3 separate regions of the Homo sapiens genome follow, and regions 1 and 2 are each linked to region 3. A link means that fine-mapping ties the variant in region 3 to the plasma level of a protein whose gene starts in the linked region. Region 3 holds a variant in brackets. A gene starts in each other region. All regions are shown on their forward strands.

Region 1 (7,208 bases), not on the chromosome of region 3:
CATTGAAAAATGAGAATACTTGTGAGTACACTCCTTTTCAGAGGTGTATTCGGGATTTCAGGAGTCGGGGAGGCAAGTTGAAGAGCTTCCAACTTTATGCAACTTTCAGGAAAGAAGGCTGCGGACCGGTATTAGCAAATGGAAATCCGGGGGGCGGTCGTGGGCAGGAAGTATCGGCCACACAGGACCTAGTGAGGCCGAGGACCCTGCTCCCGACCTCGGTGGCAGCACTCCCCTCCCCGCCCGGCTCCCTGGCGTGCCGCTGCTCTTCGGAGGCTGGCAGCCTCGCCCTCAACCACCGCCCTCGGGAAAGTCCTCGACTGCCTATCAAAAAACATTTGGCCTGGGACGTCCGCTGGCTGCACTATCCCTTACAGAATCAGCAAGGGTGAAAAGCCAGGAAAGAGATGCAACCCAAAGGAGTAAGGCAGTGCCGGGAGCGGCAGAAGCGGAGCGGGGGCGAGGGCAAGGTAGCCGCGGCCACGCTGGCTGCGGCATGGAGACACGGGAGGAACGGGACCCGCGGGCGGCACGGGAAAGGGCTGCGGCTCAGACCACTGCGGCGGGACGGGCGGATCAGCGGGGATCTAAGTCTCCTGAGGCAAGGGCGCCCCGACCGCAGCGACTCCTGACACACCCAGGCCGCAGGACGAAGCGCTACCGCCTGGGGCTGCCAGCTCCCGCCTCCCGCCCGCAGAGCCCGGGCCCCACGTAGAGGATCCGGCGCCGCCGACACTCGCACACTCACCGCGCGCGCGCCACCCTTGCGCGGCAGCCCGCCGCCCTCGGCGCGACCTCCGCCCCACCCCGCGCGCCGCGGCGCCTGGGCTACGTCACGGGCGCGTGCGCTCTCCGCGCGCCGTCAGCGGCGCGGGTGGGGCATTGCCAGCTCGGCGTCCCGGTTCCCTTGGAGACAGAGCTGGCCAGGGCGGCCGCGGCTGGGCAACTACGACAGCGGAGCCCCTGGGGAAGCCAAGATGCCGTCGAAGGGAAAGGACAAAAAGAAAGGCAAGAGCAAAGGCAAAGACACGAAGTAAGGAGAAGCCACCCGAGAGTCCCCTCTCCCTGGGCCTGCCTGGGATTTCGGGTCTGGGGCTGGCAACCTGGCGCCCCCCGCGCCGGCCCACTCGGACCCTCTCCCCGGCTCTCCCGGCTTGTGAGGATTACAGCTCCCATGTCCATAGTCTGGCAGATCTCTACTATGTGTTCAGATTATCTTAAACGTGTAGAGGATGTATAAAGTAGTTCCTTGGGCCTTTTCAGAGATCTCTTTTGGTTCAAAGGGGACACCTAAAGTATTTTACCAAGTTGGATAATTATTGAGGTTTTCCCAAACTGATCAGAGCCACTGAGGTGGGTAATGTTCTAGCACTAACCCCTTACAGGCCTGGAGTTGCTGCTAGATTGCTACTAGCCCTATTGGGGGACCCCGGTGGTTTCTGGACACGTTGGAGTCATACGTGGTGTCCAGCAACAACACCATATATGGGAACACAGAGTTGGCACCAAACTTGAGATGTTTGTAAAGTAACTTAAGAGAGTAATTCATGCTCAATACAGAAAGTTTGGGAAACATGGGAAGTACCAAAAGAAAAAACAAAAATCACCTGTAGTCTCATTATCCAAAAATAAACACTACTATATTTTGGAGTATTCTTTTTTAATAAAACGATAGCCCAATGTACATACTTATATGTGGCTTTTTTCTTCCCATTTGTTAATGTAAGTATTCTTTTATGGTATTTTTTTTTTGTTTTTACATAACTGCACAGTTAGTCTAGCCCTTAAAGTGCCAAGGGCTTATCACATTCCTAGAACTCACTAACATATGTTTTCAGATTTTGACCATGCTTCTACAGTACACATTTGAACAATGAGGAACACTAAGGGTAAGAGACCTTATTCCTTGGATTTTCCATGACCCATTGTTTGAGAAACCTGGCTTTGTTTCTACAGTGAGTATCAGTGGTCCTATTAGAGTGTCTAATTTCTTGCATCAAGTACTTTTTTTTTTTTCTTGACACCAAGTTTTGCTCTTGTTGCCCAAGCCGGAGTGCAATGGCACGATCTCAGCTCACTGCAACCTCTGCCTTCTGGGTTCAACCAATTCTCCTGCCTCAGCCTCCCGAGTAGCTGTGATTACAGGCACCCGTCACCACGCCCAGCTAATTTTTTTATTTTTAGTGGAGACAGGGTTTCACCATGTTGGCCAGGCTGGTCTCGAACTCCTGACTTCAGGTGATCCACCCGCCTCGGCCTCCCAAAGTGCTGGGATGACAGCCGTGAGCCACCATGCCCTGTCGCATCAAGTACTTCGAGCCACTCAGACCTGATACCTGGATGGTCGTAGTGAGACAGTGTATCACTAGTGCCTAAATCATGCCAGAAAGGGACATCAACAGCTATAACAGGCTGAGGGGTTGGGAATGGAGCTGGCCTTAATTTGAAGAGAACAAAAGGTGAAAGTGGGACTTTGGTTCTCTCCACTGCAAACCCATTACCTCTGTGGAAGAGGACTGAGAACCAGAGGTAGGAAAGTGGATGTGGAGGGTGGCAGTATAGAAAGGTCCACATGTACATATGTGTGAAAATATTTAGAATTCAAATACAGGTGAAATATTCTTAAATATGTACATATTTATATATCATGGTACCTACCATATATAAGGGGGAGTGTTTTGTTAATGCTTATACAATAAATATTTAGAAAAATCTCTTCCTTTACCACTTTAATCTTTGAATCCATCCTTTTTCCTCTCCACCTCTATATAAATGATTATGGTTTCTCAGGCATCCTTAAAGCCCGGTGGGTGGGGCATCGTGGCTCATGCCCAGCACTTTGGGAGGCTGAGCAGGGGAAGATCACTTGAGCCCAGGAGTTCAAGACCAGCCTGAACAACATAGGAAGACCCTGTCTCTACAAAAATTTTTATTAAAAATTAGTTGGGCATGCTAACTCATGCCTGTAGTCACAGTTACTTAGGAGGCTGAGGTGGAGGATCGTTTGGGCCTGGGAGGTTGAGGCTGCAGTGAGCTGTGATGGTGCTACTGCACTACAGCCTGGATGACAGAGCAAGATCTTGTTTCAAAAAAAAAAAAAAAGTCCGGTGAACTGTGGCACCAGCTGATAAACTATTTAACGTATTTGCCCTAGTGACTTGACTTTTTGTCCAAGACCTAGCCCAAAACAAAACAAAACAAAAACACCATCCTGGCTAACACGGTGAAACCCCGTCTCTACTGAAAATACAAAAAATTAGCCGGGCCTGGTGGCGGGCTCCTGTAGTCCCAGCTACTCGGGAGGCTGAGGCAGGAGAATGGCATGAACCTGGGAGGCGGAGCTTGCAGTGAGCCGAGATCACGCCACTGCTCTTCAGCCTGGGTGAAAGAGTGAGACTCCGTCCCTCCCCCAGAAAAAAAAAAAACACACTCAAAAGTGGAGGGTAAAGTGGGTGGGAGATCACAGTTATACTACCAATGGGTATCATCATGCAGAAACTGAACAGAGATAATGGGTTTGCAGTGGAGAGAACCAAAGTCCAGCACTGAGTGAGTAGGAATAGAAAAGATAGTTTAACTACAGGAGAATCAGGCTAGGGCACTGGTTCACACCTGTAATCTCAGCACGTTGAGAGGCCAAGGTGGGAGGATACTTGAGCCCAGAAGTTGGAGACCAGCATAGGCAACATAGTGGGACCCCATCTCTATTAAAAAAAAAATAAATATGGGAGAATCAAATAAGTAAATGAAAAGGTATAAAAACTGCCCAAGCGCAGTGGCTCACACCTGTAATCTCAGCACTTTCGGAGGCTGAGGTAGGAGGATCACTTGAGCCCAGGAGTTCAAGACCAGCCTGGGCAACATGGCAAAAACTCATTTCTACAAAAAGTACAAAAATTAGCTGGGCATAGTTGCATGAACCTGTAGTCCCAGCCACTTGGGAGGCTGAGGTGGGTGGATGGCTTGAGCCCAAGAGGCAGAGGTTCTGGGGAGCCGAGATCGTGCTACTGCACTCCAGCCCGGTGACACAGCCAGGCCCAGTTTCAAAAAGAAAAAAAAAAGATATGAAAGCTTTCTGAAATGAGTTTGGCTTATCCTGTCTTTTCCCTTTGTTTTACCAGTCTTTTCGAGTTATGCTCCAGGACTCCCCTCCTCCAGGAAGAGGCACTTACTTAATTATCTTATGTGAATACAAGTGAATATGTATTTCTTTTTTTTTCTTTTTTCAAATGTGAATATGTATTTCTTATTAACTTATTCTTCCAACAATATTTGATCATGTGTGCCAGGCAATGCCAAGCAAAACAAATAAAAAAAGAGAAAAATTTAATAGTAATATAATAGAGTTATATACTATCTGCATATTAGAGTTGTATAAATAGTCATATACTGTCAATATCCTCTTCCCATGCAGGAAGTTAATAAAAACAGATGAATCTGTGGTGGACAGAGCCAAGGCCAATGCCTCCCTTTGGGAGGCCAGGTTGGAAGTCACAGAACTCTCTAGGATTAAGTATCGTGATACTTCACGGATACTGGCAAAAAGTAATGAGGACTTAAAGAAAAAGCAATGTAAAATGGAGAAAGACATAATGTCAGTATTAAGTTACCTGAAGAAGCAGGATCAGGAGAAAGATAATATGGTAGGTAGGTAGAAAGCCTCCTTGGCCTCATTAACTACCTCTATGGTGATGCTGATGTGGTTATGTATTTCAAAGATTTTTAATTCCTTGAAATCTTAACATATACTTAAGACATTTCAATTGACCTTAACTCTGTTTGAAGCAAGACACTTTTTCAGAATGGTTTTACTGTTATCGGCTCTCTTTTATTTTCAATCCTTGTTGCATGTTTTCTTGTCTGAAGCAAACAGAGATTGATGATCATAAGGGAACTTTATGATCTACTTTATTTTAAGGATAAGAGCATGGTATGTGATCTATATATTTTTTGATGCTGATTTTTAGTTTTAAAAATTTGTAAAGCAGTTCACTGATAATCCATGATAACTTTCTGAACCCAGCAAGTTGAATCTTTATTTTTATTTTTGGCCAGTTGAATCTTGTATCTTATTGTACCTTATTAAAGTGTTGAGAGTAAAGCTATCATTTTATATTTGGAAGAAAAAAGGAGGCCGGGTGTGGTGGCTCACGCCTGTAATCCCACCACTTTGGGAGGCTGAGGTGGGCAGATTGCCTGAGCCCAGGAGTTCGTGACCAGCCTGGGCAACACAGTGAAACCCCGTCTCTACTAAAATACAAAAAATTAACCGGGCATGGCTGCATGTGCCTATAGTCCCAGCTACTCGGGAGGCTGAGGCAGGAGAATTGCTTGAACCCGGGAGGCAGAGGTTGCAGCGAGCTGAGATCATACCATTACACTCCAGCCTGGCAGCCTGGGCGACAGAGCGAGAGACTCCATCTCAAAAAAAAAAAAAAAAAAGAAAAGAAAAGAAAAAGGGAAGGGAACTAACATTTTGGAGCCACTACAATGTACTATACTGGGTGCTTTACCTCTCTTGATTCTTTTACTAACCTCCTATTTAATTATTTTTATGACCCCATGTAGCTATAATATTGTTATTTCCATATTACAGATGAAGAAATTGACTTTCAGAAAGGACAGGTAACTTGCCCAAAGTCACACCCCTAGTGGGTGTTAAAAGTGGAAATTCAGGCTGGGTGTGGTAGCTCATGCCTATAATCCCAACACTTTGGGAGGAAGAGGCTGGAGGATAACTTAGCTTAGGAGTTCAGGACCAGCCTGGGGAACAAAGCAAGACCCAGTCTCTACACAAAGTAAAAAATAGCCAGGCGTGGCAGTGTGCACCTGTAGTCCCAGCTACTCGGGAGGCTAAGGCGGGAGGATCACTTAAGCCCAGGAAGTTGAAGCTGCAGTGAGCCATGGTCATGTCACGGCAGTCCAACCTGGACATCAGAGCAAAACTCTGTCTCATATTATTATTACTTTATTATTATTTTTGAGACAGGGTCTCTCTCTATTGCCTGGTCTAGAGTGCAGTGGTATGATCACGGCTCACCACAGGATCGACATCCGGGCTCAGATGATCCTCCTGCCTCAGTCTTCCAAGTAGCTGGGACTACAGGCACGCACCTCCATGCCTGGCTAATTTTTTGTATTTTTGGTAGAGACAGGGTTTCGCCATGTTGCCCAGGCTGGTCTTGAACTCCTGAGCTCAAGTGATCCACCCGCGTTGGCCTCCCAAAGTGCTGGGATTGCAAGCATGAGCCACCATGCCTGGCTGATTTTTTTGTAGTTTTTGTGGAGATGGGATTTCGCCATGTCGCCCAGGCTAGCCTCGAACTCCTGGGCTCAAGAAATCCTCCCAACTTAGCCTCCCAAAGTGCTGACATTACAGGCATGAGCAATAGCACCTGGTCCAGAAATTTCTATCTTTATTTTATTTTATTTTTTGTATTTTTAGTAGGGACGGGGTTTTGGCATGTTGTTGGCCAGGCTGATCTGGAACTCCTGGCCTTGAGTGATCCGCCCACCTCACCCTCCCAAAGTGTTGGGATTACATGCATGAGCCACAAAACCTGGCCAATTTTTATTTTTAAAATTACTCTTTTAATAGTAGGTATTATTAAATTGCCCTCTATAAAGTATTGTTCTAAAGTAAGTTTTTTTAGTCAACCATAGAAATAATTTCCAAATGTGTTACTTAGATGCTTTGTTTTGTGGCTTGTAATAGCTCATTGTTATTGGTCTACATCAGTATCACTTGTACTTCCTGATTCTCATCTGCCTCCTTATATCAAAGGGCAGCATCTGGCAGTAACAGGTGGGTAATTTTTATAATCATGGATTGCCATTAAACCAAAAGAAACAACCTTGGGAGGAAGAAACAAAGTAGACTAAATATATCCTCATTAACTAGCTTTCCCATAGTTTTGTTACTCATTTTGCTATATACTAGAAAAATGTTATGTTGTTAAACTTTGTTTAAACTGTTTATAGTCATGTTAATTATAGAAATAATAGAAATGAAATGTGTTTTGAAAACTATTTTATTATGAACAAAATTAGGAGATTCCCCTTAAGAGAATTTAATGCTGTACTGAATTAATCACAGAATAATCTCATTAAATGTCACACCAGTTTTATGTGATTTAGGATTGTCCCAGTTTATTTTTTAGAATATCTAGATTTTTTCCTAAGGTGGTCTAAAACATTGTACATAGTAT
Region 2 (7,632 bases), not on the chromosome of region 3:
CCACCATGCCCGGCCCTATTCCCACTGTTATGTAGTGGTACATTGAGCCCCAGAGGTGAAGTAACTTATCCAAGGTTATGTGGCTAATAAGTGGTAGACTCAGAATTAAAACTCATGTTCACCACCCTCCAAAAATCTGTTATTTCCACTTCAAAAGAACTGTTAACTCATCTGAAGACAAGGCAGGTGACAAGGTTGCTTACCCATGCCATTCGGGGTTAAATATATATAGGCTGTGTGCAGTGGCTCACGCCTGTAATCTCAACATTTTAGGAGGCCAAGACAGAAGAATCGCTTGAGGCCAGGAATTCAAAAACAGCCTGGGCAACACAGCGAGACCCTGTCTCTACAAAAATTAAAATTACAAAATTAGCTGGGCCTGGTGGTGCGCCCCTGTAGTCCCAACTACTCAGGAGGCTTTAGTGAGAGTATTACTTAAGCCCAGGAGTTCAAGGTTGCAGTGAGCTATGATTATGCCACTGCACTCCGGCCTGAACCACAGTGTGAGACCCCATCTGAAAAATAATAATAATAATAATACAGTATGGTTTAATATATTAAAGAAACTGATCTCTCGCATGGTTCAAAAAGGTCTCTGAAAACAATTCCAGAGGTGGATTTTCAAAACTGCCTTGGACAACAGCCAAATCACTTAGGCACGCCATCCTCAACTCCCACCACCTACACCTGCACACATCACTCTAAAGGAGAACATTCATTGGTGGATCAAGTTCCCACATGTCAGTTATTTTAAAATCCATTTTGTTACCTTTCAGTTTCACTTAATTAGCCTCTTCTCCTGCCAATGAAACACACCAGGGCTCACAGTTGGCCTCAGTAGAGAAGTAATAGCTGGCCTTCAGAAAACAGCAGGGAAGGGGAAGTAAGTGGGAATCAAAGTACTAGGCAACTTTTCATTCCTGGACTGCCGCATCCCTACTAACATTTCCATCACCTGTAAAATGGGAGCAGAACGTCTCTTCTATTGCCAATTTCATTAAAACAGCACATGTATTCATGAGCAGATTAAATTCACTAAACAAATGAAAGAAAGGGGAAATAAATGTGGTGTGGTAACACCATCTTAAAAACCCGAGAGCCATGTTCTCAAAACCACAGACCAAGTTCTGACCCATGTTATACAAATATCAATCCCAATATCGTTACACTCTGGCTCCCATCAAAATCCTACCCAATCCCCAAATCTGGCTATACTTTTATCAGAAAAGAAAAAAACTTGGGTGGGGTGAGAGCAGAAAAGACACACACACACAACAAAATATCTTTCACAATGTCAAAAAAAAACCTGTTTATATGCCAGGCGAGGTGGCTCATGCCTGTAATCCCAGCACTTTGGGAGGCCGAGGTAGACAGATCACCTGAGGTCAGGAGTTCGAGACCAGCCTGATCAACATGGAGAAACCCTGTCTCTATTAAAAATAGAAAATTAGCCGGGCACGATGGCGCATGCCTGTAATCCCTGCTAATCGGGAAGGTGAGGCAGGAGAATCGCTTGAACCTGGGAGGCGGAGGTTGCTGTGAGTCGAGATGGCACCATTGCACTCCAGCCTGAGAAACAAGAGCGAAACTCCGCCTCAAAAAAAAAAAAAAAAAAAAAAAACTGTTTATAAACACATCACTTTCTTCTCTTAGCAAATATGTAAGTTTCATTCTCCTCCTGTCTACTTAGTTTGGGTTAACTTAACCCCCGCCCCATCTCTCAGATCATGTTTTTATTTAGGTTTATTGAGGTGGGAAAGCCAACTGAACTTTAAACGAAGCCAGGCATTTAAGAATATTAGAAAACTGATCTTACATATATAGGTAGTCAAATATTTTTAAAAGACATCAAATGGCATTCTAATTCCTCCGGTGCAAAGAAAGCCCCAGCCTCACACGTGTTAGCATTTCCTGATTCCTGGCTTTTCCCACTCAGAGCCCCATTCCAGGGGCTCATATGTCAAGTCATTCTCTCCTGACTTCTGAAGCAGGGATTTTCAAAGCCAGGATTCCGGGACCACCTGAATGAGAACCCCCTGGGGTACAGCTGCCCACGCACCATCTTATCGGAAATCCCAGGGAATGGAGCCCAAGGCTTATGCACAAAGCCCCTAGACGATCCGAGAGATAACACTAACCAGTCTGTAACCTCTAAAGGCAAATTTTCCAGGACAAAGAAAAACAAGCAATAAGAGAGTGACAATAATTCCACATGGGAAGAGACACACGGGTCTCGGAGATCAACACCAAACCACCCCTTCTTCGGACAGATACGGAAACTTAGGCTGGGAGAATGAAACAGGCAAGGGCACTAAAAACAGGTGCGGAGCCAAAGCCAATCTCAAATTTCCACGGCCCCATCTCCTGCCAATAAAGAGGTGAATGGAGACATTCTGAGTGGGAAAGATAAGAAAGGTAGGCCTTCGGCAGGGAGCCCCGGGCCCACTTGGACGTCCCGCTTTGGAGACACTAGTGAGGATGTGTGGGTCCCCAGAACACTGCTGGGAAGGCGCCGAGGCCGCCGGCAGGAGGAGGCCCAGGAAGCGCCCTGAGCCCCCCGCCCAGCTCCAGGGCCGGGCGGCCCTCACCGCCCCTACCTTCGGCCTCCGGCAGCCGAGTGGCAGACACAACTCCCACAATTCCAGGCGGCCGCGGCGGCGACCAGCTCCCCCTGCGCAAACGCGGCGGCGACCGTCTGAGCCGGTGAGCTGGCAGCTGTCACGCCGCTCGCGGCCTCGCCCAATCGCGGGCCGCCAGACCAGCGCGCGGCGCCCCCCGCCCCGCACCGAGGTGGGAGCCCCGCCCCTAGCCCCGCCCTCTGCAGACTCTTGCACGAGCTGCCCCCGTGCCCCTCCCCTTGGGGGGAGGGAGGGCTGAAGAGATAGCTTCACGCCTGCTTTTGCTTCCAGGCTGGAACTGCGAAGTTTCCTGTCTGATTTTCCAACAATGTAATTTCTTTCTAGCGGAAGGACCCTCAGAAAGCAATCAGAGGGGTGCGGAGTAAAAATAAATCAAGTTCTTGTGACTCAGTTTGGGACAGAAGCCGAGAGTCTCCAGCAATAAAATTTCTCGCAAATTCATGCAAAATAGGACACCTTTAAGCCACTCACTTTATATACTTGTGTAGATTTTTTACAAGGACCAGTTATTTTAAAAATAGCATCAGGTGGCCGGGCGCGGTGGCTCACACCTGTAATCCCAGCACTTTGGGAGGCCCAGGCAGGCAGATCACTTGAGGCCAGGAGTTCAAGACCAGCCTGACCAACATGGTGAAACCCCCGTCTCTACTAAATATACAAAAATTAGCCAGGCGTGGTGGCGAGCGCCTGTAATCCCAGCTACTTGGGAGGCTGAGGCAGGAGAATCGCTTGAACCCACCAGGCAGAGGTTGCAGTGAGCTAAAATCGTGCCACTACACTCCAGCCTGGGTGACAGAGTGAAACTCTGTCTCAAAATCTAATAAAATAAAATAAAGGTCACTTGCGATTCTGATTTTTTTTTAAGACAGAATCTGTGTCCCCCAGGCTGGAGTGCAGTGGCAGGATCTTGGCTTATCACAGCCTTGACCTCCCAGGCTCAAGGGATCCTCCCCCTCAGCCTCCATCCAGTAGCTGGGACCACAGGCGCGTGCCACCGTTGCCAGGCTAATTTTTTTTTTTTTTTTTTTTTTACAGACAGGGTCTCGCTATGTTGCCCAGGCTGGTGTCAACGCAGTTGTAATTCTGCTGTACCAGTGAATATCATGCTTTCTGTACCAGGTGCTGCATATATATTTTATTTACTTATAACGTCCTCTGAGCAGAATGGTCATCCCCTTTTTATAAATGGAGAAGCTGACGCTCAAAGAGGCTAAAGGAGTTATACAAAGTCATACAGTCAGGAAGTGGTAGAACTGGGAGTTAAAGCTAGATTTAAGTGTCTCCAATGTCCTGTTCTCTTTCCACTATTCCACTTTTAGACCTTCCCCTTGCCTAGACATGCTTAACCTGATGAATAAAAATGACTGCCCCCTCCTGCCCTCAGATCCCCCACATAGTGATTCCTGGTCATTCATGAGTGGAGAAAACAGTAATCCAGACAGTTACCTCCCCAAATGGCAAGTATTTCCCAATAGCAAACAACCTATTTCTGGACTTCCCTTCCCTTTTCCATGTACTCTATGAGCTTCTAGCAGACAATTTACCTTCTTGATTATGTTTACTTCAAGCAGATGGGAAACTGACTTCATAGCCACTGAGCAAACCTTGGTTACTAGTATGGGAAGGGAGAACAAGCCCCTGGGCAGTAGTTCAGTGAATAGTGCCAGTTTATGAGAAAGGTCTAGATAAAACACCTAGGGCCTGATTTGGAAAGAGAACAGCTCACTTTTCCCCTGGAACACCCAGGAGACCAGTGAGAAGAACTGGGCCTAAGAATAATTCTAGCTTATGTCACTGCCTAGTACCATAAGTACAGATAATAAATATTCAACAAATATTTCATGAGTGATAAATTAGAGAATGAACATATAAATTATAATAAGACTGGCACGAGTTATAAAAAAGATGTTAATAAAGTGCTACAAGAGTAAGAGCCTTAAAAATAGAATAAGCTCAAATCTTATAATAGCATGAATAAATGAATGCTTGGGCCAAGAGAAGAGTCCAGCTGAACACAGCTGCCAGCGCTCAAAGCGGGGCCTTTCTCCTTGGGACGGATCTAACCAGCTCAGGTATGTGGTAGGAAAGGGATAGTCTGTCTCCCACTGCCACCCCAGGCCTGGTCTCCAAACCTTGAAAAGCTCTGCCATGGTCTGAATGTTGGTGTCTCCCCTAAATTCATACATTGGAACCTCATATCCAATGTGATAGTATTAAAAGGTGGGCAGGTTGGGCCAGGCATGGTGGCTTCCGCCTGTAATCCCAGCACTTTGGTAGGCCGAGGCAGGCGGATCACAAGGTCAAGAGATTGAGACCATCCTAGCCAACATGGTGAAACCCCATCTCTACTAAAAATACAAAAATTAGCTGGGTTTGGTGGTGTGCACCTGTAGTCCCAGCTACTCAGGAGGCTGAGGCAGGACAATCGCTTGAACCTGGGAGGTGGAGGTTGCAGTGAGCCAATATCGCACCACTGCACTCCAGCCTGGCGACAGAGCAAGACTCCATCTCAAAAAAATAAAATAAAATAAAAATGGTCAGGTTGAAGGGAGCTGCCTTGCCCCTTCTGCCGTGGAAGGACACAGTGATCTCCCCTTCCACCATGTGAAGCAAGGCAGCAAGGCACCATCTTTGAAATAGAGAGCAAGCACTCACCAGCCCCTAAATCTGTTGGCACCTTGATCTTGGATTTCCTGGTCTGTAGAACAGTGAGCAGTAAATTTCTGTTTGTAAATTACCCAGCCTAAGGTGTTTGTTATAGTAGTCCCAACAGACAAAGACATACCCTGACAGAACTACCTTCTCAGAGGAACTTGCTCTGAACTTGCTCTGAAATCAAGCCTCTTGAGTTGCTGAAGCCAGTGTGCAAGGTTGAACCTAAGCAGACAGCCTCTACTTACACGGCCTTAAGCAAGGAGGCCCACTGTAAAGGTGAGAAGTTTGGGTGCAAGTCCAGTGATCACAGTGGGTGCTGGAATTTTGGTAGTCTCCTCTCTTTGTTTCCTTATATAAGTCTTGGAATTGAGCAAAAGTAAGTTTAAAATTTCCTTTTAGGCTGGGCGCAGTGGCTCACGCCTGTAATCTCAGCACTTTGGGACGCTGAGGCAGGCGGATCACCTGAGGTCAGGAGTTGAAGACCAGCCTGGTCAACATGGCAAAACCCCGTCTCTACTAAAAAATACAAAAATTAGCAAACCATGGTGGTGGGCGCCTGTAATCCCAGCTACTCAGGAGCCTGAGGCAGGGAGAATTGCTTGAACCTGGGAGGTGGATGTTGTAGTGAGCCAAGATCACGCCACTACACTCCAACCTGGGCGACAGAGCAAGACTCTATCTCAAAAAAAAAAAAAATCCTTTTAAATAAGTAAACAACAGGCTAAAAACCACCTCTCTCTTGCAGTTCTGTTGGGGAGTTTCTAGAATCCCTCTTCCACTCCCCAGAAGAGCAAAGGAAGGCTTGGAAGGGTAGAGAGACTGAGGAATCACCTTCAACCCGGCCACCATCAATCAAATCAAAGGAAACCACAGCACCTACCCCCAGAGCCCTGGCTAGGCGGAGATTTATAATCAATTTGGCCTTCCTCAACAAGCAGAATATGTTGAGTAGATCATTTCTCCTCTGATCAGCCTTTCTCAATTAATCTCCCACAAGCCTCACACCCTGTTGTGTGAAAGTATTCCTGGCTTCAGGAGTTGGCTCCCTGCTCTCTCTGGATGGGCCTCAAATGTTGAGTGGGGAGCAGGAGCCCTCACTTTGTCTCACCACTGTATTGATCTGCCTCCTCCCCTCGGCCCCTTCCTCTTTGCCCACCCAGCTTTCACCACACAACTCAGATCCTGCTGCCAGGAGTCCCTTCTGGACTGCAGACATTTTATTCACTTGAACATGAGCACCAAGCTACATGCCAGCCATTGGCTGTGGGGGTACAACTGTGAAACAGTCCTACTGGTTCTTACCCTCGAAGAGCTCAGGGTCAAATGAGAGACACAGAAATGTAAACAGATCAAAACAGCCTGGCAAGCACCATTTAACAGAAATATTAACGGGCTAGGTGCAGTGGCTCACGCCTATAATCCTAGCACTTTGGGAGCCAAGGCAGGCGGATCACTTGAGCTCAGGAGTTCGAGACCAGCCTGGGCAACATGACAAAACCCATCTCTACCAAAAATAAAATAAAAAAATAAAATAATTAGCTGGGCATGGTGGCACATGCCTGTGGTCCCAGCTACTTGGGAGGCTGAAGTGGGAGGATCACTTGAGCCTGGGAGGTGGTTTCAGTGAGCTAAGATTGCACCACTGCACTCCAGAGGTTCACACTGCTGTCTTTTCAGATCCCTTTTGTGAGTAAAGCCCTTTCACATTTATCACCTTGTTTGTTCCAGACACCTCTGTGAGGTAGGTGGGGCAGATTTATTTTGCAGATGAACAAAAACTCTTCCCACTGAACTCTTCAGAGCTGTGTTGTCCAATATGGTAGCCAATTGCCGCATGTTGTTTAGATTTAATTAAAATTAAATAAAAGTTAAAATACAGTTTCTTATTTACACTAGCCACATTTCAAATGCTCAGTCCACTATACTGGACAACAAAAATGATGGAACATTTCTATGAAAAAGCTCTATTGTGGCCGGGCACGGTGGCTAACGCCTGTAATCCCAGCACTTTGGGAGGCCGAGGCAGGCAGATCACCTGAGGTCGGGAGTTTGAGACCAGCCTGACCAACATGGAGAAACCCCCTGTCTACTAAAAATACAAAAATTAGCTGGGCATGGTGGCGCATGCCTGTAATCCCAGCTACTCGGGAGGCTGAGGCAGGAGAATCACTTGAACCTGGGAAGCAGAGGTTGCGGCAAGCCGAGATCACGCTGTTGCACTCCAACCTGGGCAACAAGAGCGAAACTCCATCTCAGAAAAAAAAAAAAGCTCTATTGTCTAACAGTGCTTGAGAGGTCCTGAGAGGCAGTGCTACGGCAGGGGTGTGAAGCCAGAGCA
Region 3 (7,632 bases):
GAAGGGGACATGTACCCGGGTTGGGCCAAATACCCCTCCCGCTATAGCTTGAAGGGGACATAACCAATAGCCCGGGGTTTTTTGTGGTCCTTTGGAGATTTCCTTGCTTGTTTCCTTCTGGCCAGGGGAGATTAGAGGAGGATTATCATTAATAGGAAGGGGAGCTATAGGGAGGCTAGGATATGGGGATAAGCTGAGAGATCCTCCTGTGGGATATAAATTGTAAGCTTTGCATAGTTGTGTATTCTCCCTCAATGAAAATAAAGCTTGGACATGAGGTATTTCACTCCATTTGCCTTCCCTCTTACAGAAAAGATCAAGCTGCAGGATAGTATTGTAATTTGTACTTCCCTCAGGTGGCCATTTTTCCCCATCAGAGAGAGAATATTGGGGCCAAGCCGTAGTGCAGAAAAAAATGAGCCGCCTCTTTTTCAGGGTTTGTGGGTCAAATTGGTCCCAATGGCTTAGGATGCATTTCAAGGGTGAGCCTGTTGATGCCTGAGTGTTTCCCATCTGAAAGACAAAACTGCCGCGTTTTGGTTTATTTTGTTTCTCCCCCTGCCCAAGAACCTACAACGGTCCCTGGACCCTGCTGATCAGAATAGTTGCGCTCACCAACACAGCAGCAGAAACAACCCCTGCCCAAGAACCCGCAACAGTCCCTGGACCCTGCTGATCGGAATAGTTGCGCTCACCAACGCAGCAGCAGAAACACTAGTTTTCCTCCCAGACCACATGGAGGACCAAGGAAAGTCAGATTTAGCGGTCCTTACCGACGCATTCTCGAAAACCTGCACCCTTGCCTGTCCTCCTAGGCCACAAGGGGGACCAACTGAGAAAAATCGATTTAGTGGCCCTTACCGACGCATTCTCGAAAAGCTGTTAGAGTCCTAAGCATTCTCCTGTTAGTACTGGGACTTTACCCCTGTCCTATAAAGATGTTATGCCCCAAAAATGAAGTGGAGGGCCATACCCTGAGGGAGGGAAGGGATCTCCAGGTTTGGAAGAGTGACACCTTTTGTCCTCACTTATATGAATAGGAAGGATATAATTTCTGAGGCTCCCCATATCCTAGCTTCAGGAATAGCTTTTGTTAGGCCTGTTAGTCTGAGGAGGGATCCTAAAATTCCAGGTAGTCCCCACTACGATGGGGCTTTGGGCAAAAATTATGTCTTTCTGATTGGTGAGCCCGGGTGCCTAAAGAAGGTAACAGAGTCCTGGAGTTTATACTAGAAATCATTCTTATAGGAGAAACTAGAAAAGCACCAGAGACGGTAGCAATTTTTAGAAGCGGGACTAACCTCAGAGAAGAGAGGCAAGAGGAAGTTTGTCTGACAGGCATTAGGACCCAGGGGGCAAGGGTCAGGATAGATAGGATAGATGGGCGAGTCTCGCTTGGGCGACATGCTTTTGAGAGTTCTGCTCATGGCCGCAGGGTCAACCAACTTGTTGTCGGGACCCCAGAGCTGCATGGCTTTCCTCTCTGTCGACCCTCGGCTCAGCCCAGAAGTACTGGAAAAGCAGAAGCTGGTTCTAGGGAAAACAATGGTCCCAACTCCGAAGAGTCGGGGGTTGTTATAGAGCCCTTTCCCAGAAAACCTGACACCCGTGTCTTTAGTCCGGTGGCCACGCTAGTCGCTTTTAACTGGCCAACAGGTGCCCGGTATTTAGCCCCCAAATTCTAAGGAAAGATAGGACAGAATAGCAAGCTAAAGGGGTCCGATGGTACTCACTGCTTGGCAATAGGTGATTGTCTCACCGCTCAGCAATAGGCGATGGTCTTACTGCTTGGTGATTGGCGAAGGTCCCATCTGGGTCGCCAAAATGTGTCTGGAATTGGTGGGTTCTTGGTCTCACTGACGTCAAGAATGAAGCCGCGGACCCTCGCCGTGACTGTTACAGTTCTTAAAGGCGGCATGTCCGGAGTTTGTTCCTTCTGATGTTCAGATGTGTTCGGAGTTTCTTCCTTCTGGTGGGTTCATGGTCTCGCTGGCTCGGGAGTGAAGCTGCAGACCTTTGCGGTGAGTGTTACAGCTCTTAAAGGCAGTGTGGACCCAAAGAGTGAGCAGTAGCAAGATTTATTGCAAAGAGCGAAAGAACAAAGCTTCCACAGTGTGGAAGGGGACCCGAGCAGGTTGCCACTGCTGGCTCAGGCAGCCTGCTTTTATTCTCTTATAAGTCCCCACCTACATCCTGCTGATTAGTAGAGCCAAGTGGTCTGTTTTGACAGGGCACTGATTGGTGCACCTACAATCCCTGAGCTAGACACAAAGGTTCTCCACATCCCCACCAGATTAGCTAGATACAGAGTGTCCACACAAAGGTTCTCCAAGGCCCCACCAGAGTAGCTAGATGCAGAGTGTCGATTGGTGCATTCGCAAACTCTGAGCTAGACACGGTGCTGATTGGTGTGTTTACAAACCTTGAGCTAGATACAGAGTGCCGATTGGTGTATTTACAATCCCTGAGCTAGACATGAAGGTTCTCCAAGGCCCACCAGAGTAGCTAGATACAGAGTGTCGATTGGTGCATTCACAGACCCTGAGCTAGACACAGGGTGCTGACTGGTGTATTTACAATCCCTGAGCAAGACATAAAGGTTCTCCACATCTCCACCAGACTCAGGAGCCCAGCTGGCTTCACCCAATGGATCCCGCACCTGGGCTGCAGGTGGAGCTGCCTGCCAGTCCCACACGGTGCGCCGGCACTCCTCAGCCCTTGGGTGGTCGATGGGACTGGGCGCCGTGGAGCAGGGGGCCGCGCTAATCTGGGAGGCTCGGGCCGCACAGGAGCCCACGGAGGGGGTGGGAGGCTCAGGCATGGCGGGCTGCTGGTCCCGAGCCCTGCCCCGCGGGAGGGCGGCTAAGGCCCGGCGAGAAATCAGCACAGCACCGGTGGGCTGGCACTGCTGGGGGACCCAGTACACCCTCCGCAACCACTGGCCCGGGTGCTAAGCCCCTCACTGCCCGGGGCCGGCAGGGCCGGCCGGCTGCTCCAAGTGTGGGGCCTGCCAAGCCCATGCCCACCGGGAACTCCAGCTGGCCCGCAAGCGCCGCGCGCAGCCTCGGTTCCCGCTGGGGCCTCTCCCTCCACACGTCCCTGCAAGCTGAGGGAGCCGGCTCTGGCCTTGGCCAGCCCAGAAAGGGGCTCCCACAGTGCAGCGGTGGGCTGAAGGGCTCCTCAAGTGCCGCCAGAGTGGGAGCCCAGGCAGAGGAGGCGCCAAGAGCGAGCGAGGGCTGTGAGGACTGCCGGCACGCTGTCACCTCTCAATAGGTTTCAGACTGAGATTAATAATTGTTCCATAACAACCTGTATTTAGTAAAGATGATCAAAAGGTGCTTTTGTGCCATTTTTTTCTTTCTCTAGTTTGAGTAAAAGTTTCAGCAAGTGAGCAGCAAAATTTAGATAAACTAATAAATGAATAATTTTTACAATGGAATGCCCATAAGCACCTCAAAGTCAGCACATCCAAAATGGATTTTTTTTTGTCTTTTTTTTGAGACAGAGTCTAACTCAGTTGCTCAGGCTGGAGTGCAGTGGCGCGATCTCGGCTCACTGCAACCTCCACCTCAAGCAATTCTGGTGCCTCAGCCTCCTGAGTAGCTGGGACTACTGGCATGAGCCGCCATGCCTGGTTAATTGTGTGTGTGTGTGTGTGTGTGTGTGTGTGTGTGTGTGTGTGTGTGTATTTTCAGTAGAGATGGGGTTTCATCATGTTGCCCAGGCTGGTCTGGAACTCCTGCCCTCAAGTGATCTGTCCCCACCATGGCCTCCTTAAGTCCTGGGATTACAGGTGTAAGCCACCGTGCCCAGTACCCAAGTGGATTTCATAATTTATC[T/C]CCAAATCTATTTCTTCTCCTCTGTGCCTAGAAAAGTCAATGGCACCATTAACCTCAAACTTAACCAGGTTAGAATTTTTGTGTCTCCTCCACCTTTTCTCTAGCTGCCAATCCCAGTGACCCATCAGTTTTATTCATGAGGCTATTCCCGATCTCATGCTATACACCAGGCCTTCATTATCACTTGCTTCAACCACAGGTGATCCTCAGTGATATAGTCTGATTTTAAATTTACATTTTCAAACATTGTAGTTTACTCTTTCAAATCATTTTTTTTTTCATATGCCAAGTTGGGACTTGAAAGTCTTTTTTTTTTGACAGAGTCTCACTCTGTCCCCCAGGCTGGAGTGCAGTGACACAATCTCGGCTCACTGCAACCTTCACCTTCACCTCCTGGGTTCAAGCGATTCTCCCGCCTCAGCCTCCCAAGTAGCTGGGAGTACAGGCACCCACCACCCCATCAGGCTAATTTTTGTACTTTTAGTAGAGGCGGGGTTTCACCGTATTGATCAGGCTGGTTTCGAACTCCTGACCTCAAATAATCCACCCACCTTGGCCTCCCAAATGCTGGGATTATAGGAGTGAGCCATGGCGCCTGACCTTAAAAGTCTTATATCACTTTTTCACATGACAAGTTTAGATTTCATAATCAGCTGATGAATAAATACTTTCAGTCCATGCACAGTCTGTGCCATCTGATACCTCTGTTTCAGCAAGGTAATCACTTCTATCTATAAAGCATTGTTTGTGCAATATTTTAATAGGATTAATAGGCTCAAATGAACCACAGATCTGTCAACTGAACTTGCAGTCTGGCCACTCTTGTAACAAATATTCATTTCATTAAGCACCTTTAATATGACAAATGATGTGCTAAGTACCAAGTACTTTGTCATAGTGACAAAGCAGACACTCTTACCCTCATGGAATTTGTACTATATATTGTGGGTAAAAAGGGATCCAATAAATAAACTCCCCAAAAATATATGGCTGGTGTTATTTATCTTGATAGGTGTTAGTACATAGTCTTAATAATTATCAATAATATATTACTATATGTATTTAACATATTGTACCGTAGGCCCAATATCTTTCAGTGCAAAAATACTCAGCTGAAATACGTTTTTCATTTCAAATACTTATCTATATTGATTACAACATTCTAATTTAGTGTTTTACTTTCCATTTCCAAATATTCTTTCATCAATATTATCTGTTCTTCTTTTCATCATAAATGTATTTATTTCATCTATTAGTATTTTCTATAATCTATATTTTAAGTCATTTCAGCTCTTTTTATATTTCTTAAACCTTTTAAAAGCATAATTGTATGCTAAAAGTGGGTGAGGTTTTAAAACTAAGTGCCTAAGACATAATATAAATATTTTATTGTTCTCTATTACATTAAAAAGTGGTAACCTATTTAATTCACATGCTATGGTCAAATTTTAATTTCAATAATATGACACAAATAAATACTCAGAAATGCTGACAAATCTTATCACCTGTGAAACTCAAATGTTTTCAGGGGTCATGAAGATAGCATACTTGTCTCATCCAATGACTTTCAAATTCATCCTTCTTTAAAATGTTGTGCTGGACTTTGGAGACACAAATGTGGCCTTCCAGAGTGACAGGCCTTATAACAATCCTTGTAACAATTACTACTTTATTTTTACCTGTTAATATTTATATATTAATAAACCCAACTGAACCTAAGAGAATATCTAAGACAAGTACATTTGTGTATGTGTGTGCCTTCATGTATGTGATTTTTATGTACATGATGAACTGTCTTAATTATAAAGAAAAGGAAAAAAACATGATGCTATGAGAAAAAAATGAACATTCAACTGAGCAGAGCAGAAGATATTTTTATATTTCCTGATACAAAAATCTAACTTCAGTTCCGGTCTGGCAGAGAGCGCGGAGAGACGCAGAACGCAGCCAGCTCCTCCAGGGCCCTCCAGGCCCTCCGGACCCGGGCCGGCGGGTGAACTGGGGGGCCCCGGGACAGGCCGAGGCCTCTGCCCTGCAGATACCGGAGGCCTCTGCTGTGGCTGCCCACTGGCTGTGCCCAGGCCTTGAAGCCGCAGCGAACCTCTCTTTCCCACCCCACCTGGATGACTGATGGCGGCGGCTGCGTCTCCCCGACGGGACCCCGCCGGCCGCCGCGTCTCCCGACCCAAGCCTGCCGGGCCTCGACGAAACCCCCGCAGAGTCGCTGGGACGCAGCGCCTTTGGGCGGCGCCGGGCGTGGTGGGCCGGAAAGTATGGCGGCCGCTTGAACGCCGCGCGGCGGAGGCCATTAAGGCGTGGAGGGCCCGGGAAGGCGGCCTAGGGACGCAAGCAGGCTCGGCCACCTCTTTAGGCCACGGAGCCGCGCAGATCCGGTTCCCGGGTGACCACTCTGTCGCCATTGGGCGAGACCGACCTAGTCCTGACGACAACGGACAAAGGCCTTCAGGGGCCTGGAAGGTGAGTGAAGTCCCGAAAGACGACGGGTGGAACGGTTAGCGGCTATCGGGCGGTTGGTCTTTGTTCTACCAGACTTTGCTGTCAGAAGAGAGAAATGGTAGAATGACAGGCCACGTTTGGCCCGTTGGAAATGCCCACCACCCTCTGGGAAGATTTACTGGCCGTTTATGTAAGGCCTGTGTATATAATATGAAAAAGCTGCTCTCAACTTCACCCCAACCTTTTAATAGAAAACATTTGTCACATCTAGCCCTTCTAGATGGAAAGAGGTTGCCGACATATGATAAAATAGAAAGTCACACATCTTGTAAATTCTCATTTGTTTAAAAGAAATCATAGAAAACACATGTCTTCTGGAGATGACTTTTAGAAATGGAGTTGTTAAGACGGCCTCTGGAAGCGATACGTCCACGTTTGTTAAGTGGGTTAGATGACATGGAGGTGGAAGACCTGAGAAGGAAGAGAAGAAGGTTCTGTGCTAGACTGGTCATATTTAGAAGACATTTTCATATTCTATCCATTGTTTTGTGTGCATTTTATTCTTCACTACTGTGTATATAGTTGACAATGCTAAGCTTTTTTGAAATGTCTATTCTTTTTAGATGTTCTGAAGTGCCTGATATGTTAAAATTAGAGGTAGCAAAATCACATTTTGTAAATACCTTTTTGTTACAAATCATAGGAAATGTTTTTTGGGGGGAATGGCCAAATCACCTGTTGAGTAATGCTCATTGTGCAGTGTGGTTCAGGGGAAGAGAGAGGAGGGGGAGGTGCAGAGAGCTCTATGACATCCTGTTTACAGCGAGGCAAGATGAATCATTATCTCTGTGCGTTTTGTTTTACTTATCTGTGTATATAGTGTACATAAAGGACAGACGAATCCTAATTGACAACATCTAGTCTTTCTGGATGTTAAAGAGGTTGCCAGTGTATGACAAAAGTAGAGTTAGTAAACTAATATATTTTGTACATTTTGTTTTACAAGTCCTAGGAAAGATTGTCTTCTGAAAATTTGATGTATTCTGGGTTGATGGAAATGGGAAGGGTTCTAGGCCAGAATGTTCACATTTGGAAGACTCTTTCAAATTATAACTGTTTTTACATGTTTGCAGTTTATTCAAGACTGCTGTATACATAGTAGACAAATTAACTCCTTACTTGAAACATCTAGTCTATCTAGATGTTTAGAAGTGCCCAATGTATGTTAAATGTAGAGGTAGTAAAATACCACTTTGTAAATATCTTTTTGCTAAAATTCATAGGAAATACTTCTGGAAATTGAATTGTGAAGCCACCTTTGTGAGCAGTATAGTAA

Which allele goes with the higher level. Alleles are on the strand shown, and positions count from the first base shown. The strength of an association depends on the size of the effect and on how common the allele is.
For the plasma level of the protein whose gene starts at base 787 in region 1, T is the low allele of the variant in region 3 and C is the other (weak association).
In carriers of allele C in region 3, the plasma level of the protein whose gene starts at base 2,697 in region 2 tends to be higher than with T alone (weak association).

Evidence for each region. PIP is the chance, under the fine-mapping model, that this variant and not a neighbour inherited with it causes the effect. The UK Biobank Pharma Proteomics Project read protein levels with antibody pairs (Olink). The fine-mapping took linkage between variants from a reference panel, not from the people measured, so its PIPs are less certain.
Region 1: ENTPD5 starts here. The variant in region 3 is fine-mapped to the plasma level of the ENTPD5 protein (UK Biobank, PIP 0.92).
Region 2: SIL1 starts here. The variant in region 3 is fine-mapped to the plasma level of the SIL1 protein (UK Biobank, PIP above 0.99).

What each region holds. Positions count from the first base shown.
Region 1 is chr14:74,018,502-74,025,709 of GRCh38, forward strand. ENTPD5 (ectonucleoside triphosphate diphosphohydrolase 5 (inactive)) reads right to left here and starts at 787. Exons shown (of 16, transcript NM_001249.5): 1 at 749-787. It overlaps BBOF1 (basal body orientation factor 1), which reads left to right and starts at 848. Exons shown (of 12, transcript NM_025057.3): 1 at 848-1,033; 2 at 4,415-4,643. The coding sequence starts at 978. RefSeq lists silencers at 145-439, 355-424, 465-604, 615-684, 715-964 and enhancers at 3,245-3,539, 3,305-3,599.
Region 2 is chr5:139,195,672-139,203,303 of GRCh38, forward strand. It overlaps SIL1 (SIL1 nucleotide exchange factor), which reads right to left and starts at 2,697. Exons shown (of 10, transcript NM_022464.5): 1 at 2,598-2,697. RefSeq lists a silencer at 2,373-2,902.
Region 3 is chr12:29,383,537-29,391,168 of GRCh38, forward strand. It overlaps OVCH1-AS1 (OVCH1 antisense RNA 1), which reads left to right and starts at 5,758. Exons shown (of 2, transcript NR_073172.1): 1 at 5,758-6,317. The variant T/C (reference allele first, on the strand shown) is at 3,840.